Linked DNA regions of Homo sapiens: region 1 is linked to region 2. Evidence: fine-mapped expression QTL. Tissue or cell type: whole blood. Region 2 holds a variant in brackets; the other region holds the start of a gene. All regions are shown on one strand. Distances are between the middles of the regions.

Evidence for each region. PIP is the estimated chance that this variant, and not a neighbour inherited with it, causes the effect.
Region 1: it holds the start of AP1S2, and the variant in region 2 is fine-mapped to the expression of AP1S2 in whole blood (TOPMed, PIP above 0.99). The same link has a PIP of 0.9 or more in blood mononuclear cells.

What each region holds. Positions count from the first base shown.
Region 1 is chrX:15,851,454-15,859,560 of GRCh38, reverse strand. It overlaps AP1S2 (adaptor related protein complex 1 subunit sigma 2), which reads left to right and starts at 4,748. Exons shown (of 6, transcript NM_001272071.2): 1 at 4,748-4,873; 2 at 7,037-7,215. The coding sequence starts at 7,037. RefSeq lists silencers at 4,332-4,441, 4,532-4,811, 5,032-5,321 and an enhancer at 4,110-4,714.
Region 2 is chrX:15,912,674-15,920,780 of GRCh38, reverse strand. It overlaps the pseudogene RNU5F-7P and the pseudogene SETP15. Among named protein-coding and RNA genes, the nearest start is that of AP1S2, 62 kb to the right of the region's middle. The variant C/T (reference allele first, on the strand shown) is at 4,375.

The sequences.
Region 1 (8,107 bases), 61 kb after region 2:
AGCAATGGTTCTCAAAGTGTGGTTCCCAGACCAGCAGCATCAGCATCACCTGGAAACTTGTTAGTAATGCAATTCTCAGGCCTCATCTCAGACCCCCTGAATCAGAAACTATGGGAATGAGGCCCAGCAACCTGTATTTTCACAAGTCCTCTAAAAGAATATTCTAGAACCACTGGTTTAGCGATTTGGAGTTGAGTTAGATCATTGTTGAAGCATTTCACTTCAAGGATCAAATCAAGACATTATTTGAAATCGTTTGTTTAAAACATACAGAATCTCTCTCTTATATTGCTGTGAATTAAGAGTGACATAGAAATTCATCGAACGAAAATATTGCGAAGAGCCCTGGGAGGTCATGAGAGCACATAGTTTTCAAACGTGTTGGTTACAGAAATCTAAGGTTCTATGAAGCATCTCTAGGGGTCTCCTAAAAGAAAATGTTCATACGTTTGGTTGATGACTATCCTTTGACCATCCAGGGTTTGTCTCTAAAAGACTAGAAATTCTGTGTCAGAAGAAATGGAGCTTTAGGACCAAGTCAATATCTTATTTGTCTTTATATCTTCATTACCTTCCAGAGTGCCCCAGCATAAAGTAGATACCTAACAAACATTTACAATGTATGTATGGATGGAATAGGCATCTCATGGATTCAAGTGCTTAAGTAACTTTTACTAATATTCTGGGGTCATTTTTTGAAAATCAGTTTGGATAGTTTATTCTAGTTGCTATTAAAGAATACTGACTGCTTTATGTATGCCTCCAGTCTTTTAAGCAGTTAAGGATTTTATCTAGCAGATATTAAGAATAATGGCTCCAACTCTGAGAAAGAAAGAGAGGGAGAGAGAGGGAGAGGGAGGAGAGAGAGAGAAAGAGAGGGAGAGAGAGAGAGAAACTTATATGAAGATAATGTTTGTTCCATTTCTTGAAATGTCTATAAAAATATGCTACTGCATGTTAATATTTTCAGTGACTAACCCAGGATTTCTTCCTGAACCTTGGCACTAGTGACATTTGGGGCTGGATCATTCTTTGCTATGGGATCTCTCTTGTATGTTGCAGGATGCTGGGCAGCATCCCTGGTCTCTGCCCACTAGATGCTGGCAGCATCACCTACTACTCCTAGTTGTGACAACCAAAATGTCTCCAGACACTGACAAGTGTCCCCTGGGAGGCAAAAGTGCCCAGGCTGAGAATCACTGCTCTATCCTAATGTTCATAGGGCAGTAGTAATTTTCCTGCATTTTATTCAAAGCTATGGAAACAGGCTTCGAGAAAGAGCATATGTTCCACATTTCTCTTTAGCTCATTGTTGAGGACTTTGGCAGTGACAGCTCTATCTATTTTGAAATGATTTGGTTCACAAATCCTCATTATTTTAGGCCATTTTTCTCCCTGGAACAACTTTATCTTTGGAGATGCAAATTCACAAACTCTAAACATCTTTTTTACACTTTCTGTGATCTACAAGGCTTCAGCACTGAATTCCATTATTGGGCATTTTTATTTAATAATTTCTAAATAATCTATAGACTGGCTAAAGGAACTCTGTATAAGTCCATAATACAGAGCTAGCAACTAATGGAATGGTTTTTATCTACCTCCTTACAATATTTTAAAAAATTATTTAAGAAAAAACCTAAGTAAAATGTAATAATACCCTTTATTACATCCTACTGCAAGATTCTGTCCATGGAAAGAAATTCACCATTGCTTCTGGGATTTACTTCCTGGTATCGAAAGAATATGCTAATAATTCTAGTTCGTGATTTATTTTAGATGTTATCTATTTTCTTCCCTTTAGCACATGAGGATTTAGCATTATTTCAACCTTCCCTCACTTCTGCTCCTCCATAATATCAATATATGACAATTTTTCTTTAAATCATCAGTGTTTAAATGATGAGCTGACAGTGTATCCTGACATCCTTATCGACATCCTCATGTAAATGTTCCCTCTCTTATTTTCCACGTGGGTATGTGTTTTAAATAGTCCCTTTAAAAAAAATTAATGGTATTTTGAGACAGTGAGAGGATAAAAGTATATGGCCATCACACATTTAATAGGAAACTAAAATTATTTTTGAAAACTTTGGAAAGATTACATAAAAAGTCTCAAAATTTTATCGTTAGAAGGTAAAGATTTCTATTTTCCCCTCACCTCTTACATTTAGCATAAATGACAGTGAAGCATTTTTTTCAAATTTAAGAAACAAGTATAAAATCTGATTTTTAGTTTTTCATGAAACGAATTTTGTATATAATTCTTGTATCAATATTAACACCAATAAATCAGGACCATCTAGAAAACAAAAACAGGATTAAAAAAGATAACCAATTGACATGACGGATGAAGAAGACACTAGGTGAGAAGAAACATGTATATAACAAAGCCTACAATTGGGAAATTGTGGGAATCAAAGTCAAGCAGTTAATTACTAACAAAGATGGCAACCATGTTTCTTTTGTCTTTCACAGTGAATGCATAATTAGCACTTAATACTAAGACTAGGGAATAAACCATCTATAATCTATTGAAAAAGACCATCTGCTTCTATAAATTTTGTTCTCATACACTTGCCAAAAGAAGAGAACATATTAACAAAATAATGGGCCCTGCACTGTTAATTGCTAGGTTGTTTGCAGTTGTGCTGTTGCTATTAGAATTTAATAAGCCATTCCTTCTGCTAAATTAATAAGCAGCCAAGATTATGTAATAGCTGCTTTCAGCTGCTAATTATTTTTCCCACAATTCCTTCCCCTCCCTACCCCTACCCCCACCTTTTTTTGGCTAGGAGCAGGAAAGGAGACTGCCAGTATGTCATCAGCAAGTCTCCCGTCCTCATTTTCAGAGCAACATTAGGAGCATAATCAGAGTTTAAACTTGGAAGTGGCTATCTCAGGAACCTTCAGGATATAAGTGTTTTGTACAGAAAAAGAGAAAAGCAGCATTTGGATTCAGAGGGCGAGTTTTCATTGTGTAGCATTAGAGCTATCTTTTAACTGGTTAATGGCATCTGTTTCTTGTAGTAAGAGAGAAATGGGACATTCGAAAGCACCTTTGGGGCATGACTAGGTAGGGAGAAATCTGGTGGGGGCGAGGGGGACCTAAAGAACTACAGAAAGCCAGCTCTGTGCCGTGTGTCGTCCCCTTTCTTTAATATTCCAGTATACATTAATCATACATGTTAGTAGGAAACTTTCCAAGCAGCACAGTAGTGCTTGAAAAGGGGAAGTATTACACATTTCTTTTTGTTTTGTCATACAAAAGCATTTTTTAAAAGCCCCCAAAACTACTGTCTTAGTTTCATAGATACTATAATGTACACAAAAAGAATATAATCCCTAATAAAGGATTCCTTTACATTGATTACATTTAGCTTCGTGAAAATTTTAGCATTTCTTTTTTTACTTTAGGCCATTAAAAAAATTCTGGCGACTATACTTAGGAACCTCTGCAAAAGGGGCATGGCCCAACAAAAGCAATTTTCTCGCTTCCTTTGTAAGAACCTAGGTGACTCGGGTAATGAATAGCATTTCGATATGGGAAACCCGTGGCTCTTCAAGGAAGGTCACCTAATCCCGTGGGACTCCCCTTTCCTTATCTGTAAATGACTAGATGATTCATCCATTCTATCATTCAGAAAATTATGAACATCCATTATGCCCAGGCATTACGCTCAGCATTACAGCTCTTAACAAATTTATCATTTTATAGTCTTTATCAGTCAACTCACATTTATTAGTTGTTATATACCAGGCTGTGAACTAGATTGAGATGCAAAATGAATACAATTTAAGGTGTGCTAAATAAAGGCTAACGGGCATGTGGGTGAAAGAGGGAATCGCTCTTACAGGGTTTTAGGGTGAGGCTTCATAGATGTGACATTTGGGAGCAAGGACATGCCAGGCACAGCAAGTCGTCGGCAGTGCTAAACTGGAACCCAGGCGGCTGGTGGGGCGACCCAGTGTGAAGGAAGCGGGATCTCGAAGGTGAGGTGCTGTCCGGGCTTTTCAGCCGAACGGACGGTAACTCATCCAGTCCGCAGCACCGAGGATGGGCGAGGCGAGCCCAGGGAACAGACTCCCGCGAAGCTCGGGGCGGAAGGTGTCTGGGCTAGGGCTGGAGCAGTGCAATGGGAAGGAGAGGGCGGATTCCGGACAATTTTGAGGCAGAATGATAGCAAAAGGCCCGTGAATGCGTGACGAGCTCCACAGAAGAGCTGACTTGTTTTTCCAGAGTTGCAGCACTCCCTCGTCTCCTCCCACCCTCCTCGTCAGCCGTCACACTTCACACTTCCTCTCTGGGGACACAGAGAATCATTAGAGCTCGAACGTGGCTCTTCGCTGTCCGGAACTTCCCTGCCCCGCACCACCCGCTAGGCTAAGGACGCTGCAGAATCCCGTCCTCCTATCATTAAACAAGCAGGACAGCCGCCCGCGCGCGTCCCGGAGGCACCTGCAAGAGCGCGCGGGCGCGCGGGCGCTCGGGCCCGGCAAACGCCGCTTCCGGGTCACGTGGCCCGGCTTCCGGTTCGCACCTCCCCTCAGCGAAGAAACCTCCAATCGGCTGCCTTGGACTCAGCGGTTACCCGCGCTGCCTCCGGTGCCGCTGGCGACCGCTGAGCCGCTTCCCGCGCGTCGCCTAGCCCGCCCCTCAGCTCGCCGCAGCCCCGGCTCCTCCCTCGTCCGGCCCCCGGGGCGGGGTCTGTCAGCTTGCCCTCCCCTCTCCGCCTAAGCCTGCCCTATGCCAGCCGGGTGTCCTCCCCACAGCACCACGGCTTCTCTTCCTCAGCACGGCGACAGGGGCTTCCCCTTCGCCGCCGCCGCCGCCGCCGGCCAAGCTCCGCCGCGCCCGCGGCCCGCGGCCGCCGTAAGTCCCTGGGGGCGAAAGGGGGCGCCGGGGATGGGGGAGAGGGGGAGGGAGGACTGGGCGCGCCCCCCGCCACCCCGCGCGCGCCCCGACGACCCCACCCCGAGCCTGCCCGGCCCGCCACTGGGTCGCCGCGCCCGCAACTCACTTCTCTCCGTGTCCGCGCCCTCCGCACCACTCCGCGCCGCGCCCGGGGATGTGGGGGCCAGTCCCGGGCTCCGCGACAGCCTCGCGGCACCTGTGGTTCGGGAATCGCCTCAAGTTTTGCGGGGCGCTTTCGGGAGGGGCCGGGGGCGGTGGCGGCCGAGGACTCTTGGCGCCCCCTGCGCGGCGGCGGATGCCATTGTCTGCTCCGCTCCTTGCCTGTCACCTCTCCCGGGCTTGGTCAGTGATGGAGTGTGGCCACGGGAGTGGGGGGGAGGCACCGGCGACGGCCGGACCCGAGGAACGCTGGCCCCGAGCCCGCGCCGCGGCTGAGCCCATTGTTTTTAATGCCAGTCTCGAGGAATTGTGGTGCCCTGTGATTTGCGGCAAAATCAAAGCGTTGGTTTTTAACACGAGGGAAGGAATACTCGTGCTTTGCAACCGGGTTTCGTCCCATGTTAGGACATAATTTATTTTAAGGAGAATACATTGTTTTTTCGTCCTGCAAAGTGGTAGGGCGGATACAGGACCCTGCTCCAGACAGCCTTGAGCCCATACTCTTCGCAGGCAAACCCTCACCCTTTCTGGTCACCAAGATCTAGGAATACGAGGTCCATTCTTTTCCAAGTTCTGGTAACGGGTTTGCAGTAAATGCCCAGTTGATGCTTCACTTCCTGCCCCCTTCGAATGCCGCTATCTTCAGGACTTGCACGGGAGGCACTTTGGTATCACCTAATAATGTCCTTATATTTTGTTCCCCTGACGCATTTTAAGTGAGGTAATAAGACCATTTTAACTTTACTAAAGTTGAATTGCCACGTCATACATTTCTAGATATCTTGTTGATACCTTTTTGGGTGGTTACAAAAAGCGACGATAATTTCTTACCGAAATTTAGGGCCCATTTTTATTCTACATTGGTTCTGTAAATTTCCCCTCCCCGTGTTCAAATTCAAGATGGTGTGGTGAATCTTGAGAATCATGCTTGAATCTTATTTGCAGTAACGCTGTTAAAGGAACTTAACAGTGATTAAAAGAAAAAAGGATACCTATGTGAATTCTGCCTTTAAATTACCTTTGTAGAAACAATACTTCTGTTTGCAGTTGAGATGACCAATTGGATTACAAAAAGCTTGGCGTTAAAAATGAAACATGCAGACTAATCAACACATTTGCAGATCACAAATAAATACATACAAATTAGTTTAAGTATAAAACACACTAGAATTCAGCATCCATTCCATCTGTAGATACTATTTTTTATTTTAAATGAAGTATTTCATGTAATGTTTCAATGCTGAATCTTATTTAATAAGTGTAAATCTTATTGTGGCCTTTTAAACGTTTGTTTTCTTTTTCATAATACATTAACTCAGTTCTAGATTTTGTACATATTTAAGTTGGAATGCTTTAAAAGTCAGATGAAAACATACTTTTTTATTAATGAAAATTTGTATTTATGGGATTTTTCAGTTAATATTTTGGATCATTCTGTTTTGCTTAAAATATGCCATCATAAACTGAGGAGAACATTCCAAGACATAAGCTACTGTCTGCAAGTAATTCACCCTGGAACTAGAACGGCCTCAGGATGAAAAATAGCAGGTCTTCTGTTTCTTTCAAAAGTACCCAAACCAGATGATGTCTACCATTCTCTTTTGATGCATATAGAGAGTGCGCAATGTATAGCACAGGTAGAAAATAGTTTCTTAAATTGAAAGAGTGATCTTTATTTTTCTTCAAAAATTTCACTTCAGCTTATTACCCATTTTTCTTTTTTCTCCTGCACACTCCCCTTCAAACTTAATGTGGAACAAGGTGGGATTGGAAGGTTTGCATCTAGAGGAAGATCTGTCCAAAAGAATTTCTTGCTATTTTAATTGGCATAGAAATATTGATGGCTACTAATCATTTGTCATGTAAATGCCCCATCCCCCAAAACTTCTCTGTGAAACACATAATCTTAACTTTATTGATTCAAAGTATTACATGTAATCTTGATTTTATTTATCTTAACAGATGCAGTTTATGTTGCTTTTTAGTCGTCAGGGAAAGCTTCGACTGCAAAAATGGTATGTCCCACTATCAGACAAAGAGAAGAAAAAGATCACAAGAGAACTTGTTCAGACCGTTTTAGCACGGAAACCTAAAATGTGCAGCTTCCTTGAGTGGCGAGATCTGAAGATTGTTTACAAAAGGTATAATTTTTGTTTGTCAGAAAGGTGAAATAGAATCAAATGTTAGGTCATTTAGGAAATTGCAGACTTCAGTGATGACATTTATAAATAACGATTAATAAAGATTTAGATGAAATAGGTTTAAGGTAAAGCTTTGTGTTTTTAAAATAACTAGTGTTTTGATTGATAATTACTGAGGCTGAAATGATAAAGGCAGGGAAATCCTTTGAAAACTAGTTATATAATTAAAGGCATAAATGATTATTCATGCTTAATCATCTTTATAGAAGAGTTTAATGAATTCATTTCATTGCAGGGGAAAGTAGGGTCAGTATTTTAAATTGTGTGAGTAATTCTCTGAATTGAGACAAGTACAGATAGAGTCTAATTCTTTTTCCCCGAAAATCTATAAAGTAATGACTAATATTTGACATGCCTTTTATCTGATTTTTAGAATCTTACTCACGTGTAAATACCTTGACTATGTAGACTATTTCAATCACATAGATGTTTTAAAAACTTTGTGTATACATGAGATGTGTTTGTAAGTAGTGTTTATTAACTTTTAAGTACCCTTGTTGCTATGGTGGGGGTGCAATTAAATATGACAGATAATTTTTCCAAGGACAGATTTTTTAAAAATTTGATGTTACAAAATGACTCATAGATTGGCTTTTAACACTAAAATTTTTTTAATGCTATACGTCTTTATTTTATAAATATCTGAAACCCTGAATACCCTAAAATAAATTTCTCAAGATTGTTCTAAGTAGGTTAAAAGAAATAAACTTTCTTCTTTTACAGAACATTTTTTGAGGGGACATTTACTTCATTCCCCATTTGTTTCTTTTTGAATAATTTGCTGAATTTAAGATAAGAGCATTTCTGCATATAAAAAGTTCTCTTGTGTGGG
Region 2 (8,107 bases):
AAGCCAGAACTGATCTCTTTTTATTCCACCTGAGTCGGTTTTAGGGTAGGATCATGAGTTCCACTGGTCAGGCTGTGAGCCCCCTCTGTTCCTTATTTTATAATGTGATGACTGGACCTTTCACACATCTTCCCTGATATAATTAGTGTGCCATCCTTAGAGGAAGACATTGCTATCTCCATTTTGCAGATGAGAAAATGAGGTTTAGAATAAAGTAATTTGCACAACACTTCCCCTAGCACCAGTGCTGATGCCAGCATTTTAAAACCCAAATCTTCCTGCTTCCGGAGCTTACATTATTTTCTCTATAACACACTGCCTCTTGGGTCATAAATTTATGAGATCATAATAAATATCTTTCAAATTCTGGTATCAGAATGGAAGGCACTCTTCTTTGTTTGGACAAGAAGAATCAAGAGAGGACTTAACTCATTCTTGGAGTTGACAGCAGTGAAAATAACAGCAGTGATAACAGAGCATGGGCAAATCATTTATTTTTTTCCTGCATCTAAGTTTCTTTAGGTGATGAATCGCAATGATGAAATGAGAAAAAGAGCAAAGGGACACTAGAAAAATTAACCTAGTGTTTATGACAATTCGACAAAGGAATAATAAAAATTCTTATAATTCTTTTTTGTTTTTAGAGATGGGGTCTTGCCATATTGCGCAGGCTGGAGTGCAATGGCTATTCACAGGAACAATCATAGTGCACTACATCCTTGAACTCCTGGTCTCAAATGGTCCTCCTGCCTCAGCTTCCTGAGTAGCTGAGACTGCAGGCATGTGCCACCGTGACCAGCTCTCTTATTAATATATGTCTCATCTACATTAGCAAGACTATTATGCAAACACCCAGAAACAATAAACAACCAAAATATTTATAGACAGTGGTATGGATAAATGAATTGTGTACATTCACCAAATGAAATGTAAGGGCACTAGTTGTGGTGTTTTGTTTGTTTGTTTGTTTGTTTTTTGAGACAGAGTTTCACTCTTGTTGCCCAGGATGGAGTGCAGTGGCGTGATATGGGCTCACTGCAACCTCCACCCCCCGGGTTCAAGCGATTCTCCTGCCTCAGCCTCCCAAGTAGCTGGGATTACAGGCGTCTGCCACCAAGCCCAGCTAATTTTTTGTATTTTTAGTAGAGACGGGGTTTCACCATGTTGGCCAGGCTGGTCTCAAACTCCTGACCTCACCCACCTTGGCCTCCCAAATTGCTGGGATTACAGGCGTGAGCCACCGTGCCTGGCCAAAGGCACTAGTAAAAAGAAATGAATACCAACTACAAACGATGATACGGATGAACTGATAAATGTTAGAAACTTGAAGGAAAAAAACACTACATACATTATTATGACATTTGCATAAAGCTCAAAAACAAGCAAAACTAAACAAATTGTTCAGAAATGCATCTGGTAAGAGTAATTTTTTTTTGTTTTTGTGTACACATTTAGTCTTTTGTAACAAAAGCAACTTGTACACGTTTAACATTTAAAACTGAGCATCATCTTTCCTTTCCAGTAAATCAAAATTTAAAAATAAACACGGACAAAATTACAATAGAGCATGCCAATTCCAAATGAGATCCTACAGGTTCTGCTGATTCTTCTAGCAAGTGGCAGGGCTCAAGTCATCAGTAGGAGAGAATTCATTTTTAGTGTCATCTTAAACTGCAAGGATGCCTGGTAAACATCAAAATTATTTTTCACCAAACTGATGCTTAAAAAAAAAAACCACAATTAAACATACCAAAGGAGAAACCATGTTGTCAAAATGCCCACTTCACCCATCCAAACATCTCAAACCTAACCTTTACTGACTTCCTAGAACCCCATTTTAAAAAATTCTTTTTTATGTTTTTAAACAAGAGAAAGTAGACGGATGCATGTTGGTAAATGCTAATTGTCCTTATTCACAAAGAGACACAGTGTTCTTTCTGAGAAGGAAAAAAGCTAGAATTCTATGCTCTACCACACAGGGGCCTAACACCCTTCTGCTTCCAGCAGAGCAAAGGAAGCAGATTTTTCTTTTTTCCCGCAGAGCTCAGTGGTGTTGATTCCATACAGTTTTCGTTGAGACAGAAAGGGATAAAAATGAATTGAAACAGAAAGGGGTAGAGACTCTTTTCCCATTGTATATTGCTCAAGGTGCCTCTTCTTCCTCTTCCCCAAGCAGTGCAGACACTTACAGATGTGAAATTACTTTTGCAAAATTATGAGAGTAAGATAAATCTGACATAGTTGACTCCATCTTGCTTCTAACCTCCAAGCTGTCCTTTGTCATTCCTGGGTATAGGCTAAGCTAATTTGAGGAATAATTTAGTTTAGAGTTTAACCAAAGCAAGGATGATAATAGCCCTTCCCAAAACTAAACCACCACCACCTTTGTAAAATGAATCAAAGCCCACAAGTTTAGGATTATGAGAGGGGCCAAAATTCTGTTAAATTGTAAGCATAAACAACTGTTCCAGGGTTCACAAGATTTGTAACTTCCCTAATTACTTCTGTAGGTAACATCCTTACTGTAGAACCTAAGGTTGGCCTTTCGAGATATTTTTTCAGACTTCTGCATTTCTGATGATGGGATGACTCTACTCAGATGACTCTACCTGGACTGTGACTGCAGCTCATGACCCAACTGGTCCTACAGCCCCCACTTAGAGGCTGACTCAGTGCACAAAGACCATTTTCCACACCTCTATGATTTCATCCCCAACCAATCAACATTTCCCATTCCCTAGTCCCCTGCCCACCAAACTATCCTTGAAAACCCCTAACCTCCAAGCCTTTAGGGAGACTGATTTGAGTAATAACTCCATCTCCTGCGTGGCCGGACTCGTGTCAATTAAACTCTTCCTCTACTACAATACCATGGTCTCAGTGAATTGATTTTATCTGTGCAGCAGGCAGGAAGAATCCGTTGGGTGATTACAGATGACTGACAAATGCTGTTACCCCAAAATTTGGGATTTGGGGGATCAATTCTGACCTCTTCTGAAAAAATGGTTGGCAGAGTTTGTTATATTTCTGTTCTACTGTCAAAATCTTCTCACTGGCTAGTTCATTAAATCTATTTCATTTTTTACTTCATCAATATGTTCAATAGCTTCTTGTAGTTTTTTTTCTCCCTTCTTCAGCAAGCCCAGAAAGGCTGATGTCTCTGCCTGTCTCAGAGGAGAAAGTGGTCTTGGTTTCTCCTTTTGAGGCATGAGTGGAGAAAGGCATATGGGAGCTGTGTTGTGAGGAAAATCCAGGAACCAGACCACGAGTCTCCTGACTCCTTAGGAAGAAGCTCAGAAAACTCAGTAGTTTGTTTTTAAAGAAGGGGAATGCAAAATTCAGGAGAGCAGGTATTTTGGTGGGAGAGGCAGACATCATGGAGAACAACCCAGATATTAATGTTCCAGCCTCTGTGTGTTTATATGTCAATAGTCTTCACAACTTACATATATATTATACATTATATTTATTATTTATTTTATATATATAATATAGTGTAATAAAATTTTAAGATAAAATATATTTTCTGTCATCATATTGTGGGGCAAAGTCTTAAAAGATCTTAAGATCATTGATTTTCCTTGATAAGCTAAGGATTTGTAAGAATTGAGAAGAGAAACCAGGTAAATCTAAATTTTGGTGCAAAGGGCCCAAAGTGCATTTCTCCAGCCAACATTTAGAGCAGCCCCCATCAGCTGATACAGCAGTTTCCTGAAACCCAGGATCCCTTTCCCAGCTTGACTCCAAACACCTCAGAATTACTGAACTGGCTCATGTTAGCTAGCCGGCTGGCTTCCACCAGATAAGACCATTTGATATATCATGTAACCACTTTAAGAGTTTATCTTTTGATTCACCAGGAAAAATCTTCAGTCCAAAACATTAAACGGGCATTTTTCAAAGACTGGGAAAATAATGAACATTATCAGCAGTTTCCTGCCATTCTTTGTGTCCTTGATGCTCCACGGTGAGAGTTCATGAACTAAATGGGGCGTATTGGAAAAGCCTTTTGGAGCCTGGATTTATGATTGGGAGTTTTCCTTCTGAGTACAATGCCCTGCACATCTAAGATTTGTTTTCAAAGAGAAATGGAACTATCTGACATATTTCTGACTTGGTTTTTAATTCCTCTTGTCCTCGTGTTAGTCTCATATAGAAAGTGTAGAGGAGAGATGAGGAGTAGGGAGGAGAAGAGGTGGGGACAGGAAATGGAAAGTAGCAAGAAAAGGGGAAATGTAGAAGAGAGGGAAGGGGGAGGGAGATGGGGAGAGGGAGGAGGGAAGAGGCATGGCAAGAGGAAGTGGGAAAGGGAGTTGGGGAGGATAAGTCACAGACTGAGCAACCACAGTTCCTCACACTGTGCTTGATTATTTC[C/T]GTAGAGGTCAATCCATTTACTTCTTATAATCTGTGAGCTGAGTCAGGAAGCTTGCAACTCAGTAAGGCAGAAGCCTTAGATTCACACAGCCAATAATATTGGATGCTCTGGTTTCTCTTCAGAACAAATAAATATTTGGCCTTTTACTAAAGATTTCCATGGAGAGGAACAATTATTAATTAATAACCAAATTTTTGAGGTCCTGCTTAGGCAGGGCCAAGTAAATAATAATAAATAAATAAATAAATAAATAAATAAATAAATAATGATTAGATTAAACTCCAGATCTTTCTGACTCTGAAACCAACTTTCTCCTAGTGCCCACCTCTGGGAACTGGAATTCCCAAAGGCAGTAATTTATTAAGGAGCGGGGTCCGGGGCAATACGATGGGGACCCCAAATATGCAGGGTATGCAAGGGCAAGATTAAAGGAAACTAACAAGGAATGGTGCATTACCTTGGCGTTAGCAACTTCCTGAGAACTAAGCTCTGGGAGAGGGCTACCCAGGCACCACAACCGTCAATACAAGAATGCACTAATGACAGCCTACAGGGAGGCAGGGTAGGGGTCACAATATATCACCCACCCTTGTCTACAACCCTCCTCCAAAGCTCCTCCATGGAAAACTCTCATTTGCCACCAAAAAGAAGAGTATTTGATCATTTTTGACTAGGCTTGCTAACAATTTCATTGAACAGAAGGTAACAAAAGAAATGCGACAGACACTTCATTCTGAACAGTCAAGAACAATTGATTAAACAGAAGTGTGAAGAACCTTTGAATAAAGGGATTGATTGTGTTATCTGAAAATCCAAAGGCAAGGAAGGTAAAACTGGTTGTAGACTTTAGGAAAACACATTTCTACTGATGCACAGAAAAGATAGAATCACAGAAGAAATAGTATCAGGGGACTCTAATCCAAGCTAGAAGCTCTGAAAATATACTTCTGGCTATTTAATAAGAATACCATAGGCCAGGCATGGTGGCTCACGCCTGTAATTCCAGCACTTTGAGAGGCTGAGGTGGGCAGATGGCTTGAGCCCAGGTGTTCAAGACCAGCCTGGGCAACACAGGGAGACCCTACTTCCACGAAAAATACAAAAGTTAGCTGGGCACGGTGGTGCATACCTGTGGTCCCAGCCACTTGGGAGGCTGAGGTGGAAGGATCGCTTGAGCCCAGGAGGTTGAGGCTGCATTGAGCCGTGATCATGCCACTGCACTCCAGCCTGGGCCACAGAGCGAGACCCTGTCTCAAAAAAAAAAAAAAATTGTAATACTGTTTAAAACTAGAGAAATAATTTAATAAACAAATTTTGCTGTGAGCTCAGGTGTTTAAAAGGATAAGAAATGACCACAACAACCTTTCCCACCTCACTTGGACTCTAGGGAAGGTTTCGAGCATCCTGAACAAGGTGAAATTCTCACATACTTGAGGTCAAAGCTCTGAGCAGGAGGACTAAGGGCTCTCTTGATTCTTTCCTCTGGGCCCCAGCAGAGTGCCACAGGCATAGGTTGAGAAATCCCCATCAGAGCCTGGAGGGGTCCAGGAGAAAGAAATGGAAGATGGCTGCTCAATGATCACGGGTATCCAGTCCTTCAGTCAACAAAAAGGGAGCTCTTGACCTTCCTACACAATCCATCCCAAGTTCCCAATGCAGGTGAGCAATTAGGGATGCAGAATATGCTAGGAATAGGAGCATGCATTTATCATCCAGGGTCCTGCCAGGAAACAGATGGCAAACTCACATGGGGTAAGTGAGAAAGGTTTAATAAAGAACTCTCTATAAAGGCAAGGGCAAGGTTAAAGGAAACTAACAAGGAATGGTGCATTACCTTGGGGTTTGCAACATCCTGAGAACTAAGCTCTGGGAGAGGGCTACCCAGGCACCACAACCATCAATACAAGAATGCAGCTAATGACAGCCTACAGGGAGGCAGGATAGGAGTCACAATATATCACCCACCCTTCTCTACCGCCCTCCCCAAAGCCCTGCATGAGCTGCACATTGCCAGAGGGCAAATGAGCCCTGATGTGGTCCATGGACCAAGGCAGACAAGAATGAAGAGTAGACCAGAGGGGCAAACAGAGAGTAGCCAGCACAATCATTCTAAAATTATGAGCATATGCATGGACTTAGCTACAAGGATATTCATCACAGCATTATTTGTAAAAGCAAATATATGGAAATAACCTAAATGTTAGATAGGGAGAAAAAAATGATGCCATACCCACATGAGGGCAGAGACTATCTTACCTATTTTTCTGTATAAACTGCAGCAATTGGAATAATGCTTTGCATAGAAAATATTCATTAAATATTAAAATGCTAGTGTGGGCCGAGCATGGTGGCTCACACCTGTAATCCCAGAAATTTGAGAGGCTGAGGTGGGTGGATCGCTTGAGCCCAGGCATGGAGGCACATGCCTGTAGTCCCAGCTACTCAGCTATCCAGGAGGCTGAGGTGGGAGGATTGCTTAAGCCCGGGGGGTCAAAGCTGAAGTGAGCTGTGATTGCACCACTGTACTCCAGCCTGGACGACAGAGTGAGACTCTGTCTTAAAAAAAAAAAAAAAGGTAGTTTAGGGGTACATTTACTGACATGAAAAGATGTTCATGATTCAGTTAAACAAGAAACAGGTCACAAAAATATGTGGTAATGATCTTATTTTATTTGATAGCTGGCTTCATAGATAGATACAGAATACAGATTTGGAAAAACATACATGGAGATGGTTAAAGTGATGAATGATGCTCAGAGGGAGACTGTTTTGTTTGGATTGGGTTGGGTTGGTTGGGTTGGGTTTGGTTAGGTTTGGTTTGGTTTGGTTTGGTTTGGTTTTGTGCTTCCGTTTTTTATTTCTCTGTAGTGAATACAGTTGTTTTCGTAGTAAGAAAAATACATCTTTTTTTTTCTATTTTACTTATAAAACAGTGTTGGTTTTCCTGGTGTTTTCCTTTCCCTTCCCTGCATTATCTCTTGCTCTATAACCTTGAGAGTGGCAGCAGATGGCAGGGCAAGCATGTGGATGGAGGGGAGGGGAGGGAATCCCACCATATGGGAATCATGACTCACAGCTTTCACAGCTTGTGGAGCACTGAGGACCAAAATACATACAGAAGAGTGGAAGGGGCTTAGAAAAAACCTCCTGCACAAGGCTCAAATCCTAGGAAGCTGAGATTTATAGTACATGCTGAGGATGACTAAAAAGTATTTTTAAGCTATATTGGAAGGAAGATGAACAAGCAGGGAAGAGCATCACTGCTAGGTAAAGATGTTGCATTACCAGATCGCAGGGAGGAGAAGCCTTCAATTCCCATTTTGCTTTAATCTCAACCATAAATAAGACTTTCTTCTTTATCTCTTTCTTGGCCATCATCATCACCAGCAACATCAGCATCATCACCACCATTAACATTGTCACCTCCTCCAAAATTACCACTATTATCATCATCATCTCCATCCAGATAGTTAAACGTCCTAAGAACAGCAAATGTCTTATCCTCTTATATATGCTGGAACATTCACATAATCCTACATAGTTCAGTAAACATGAATTGACAAAGATGAAGGCTCTCTTATTAAATGAGAAGATAACATGATGCTGCTAGGAAGAGGTAATATATTGGATGAAAAGTTTGTAAACTTTGAGCCAACATTTCAAAGGGAGAAAACTTTTGAATCATGTATCCCCCCATGTTTATCTGTATTTATTTACAAATTATATACATGT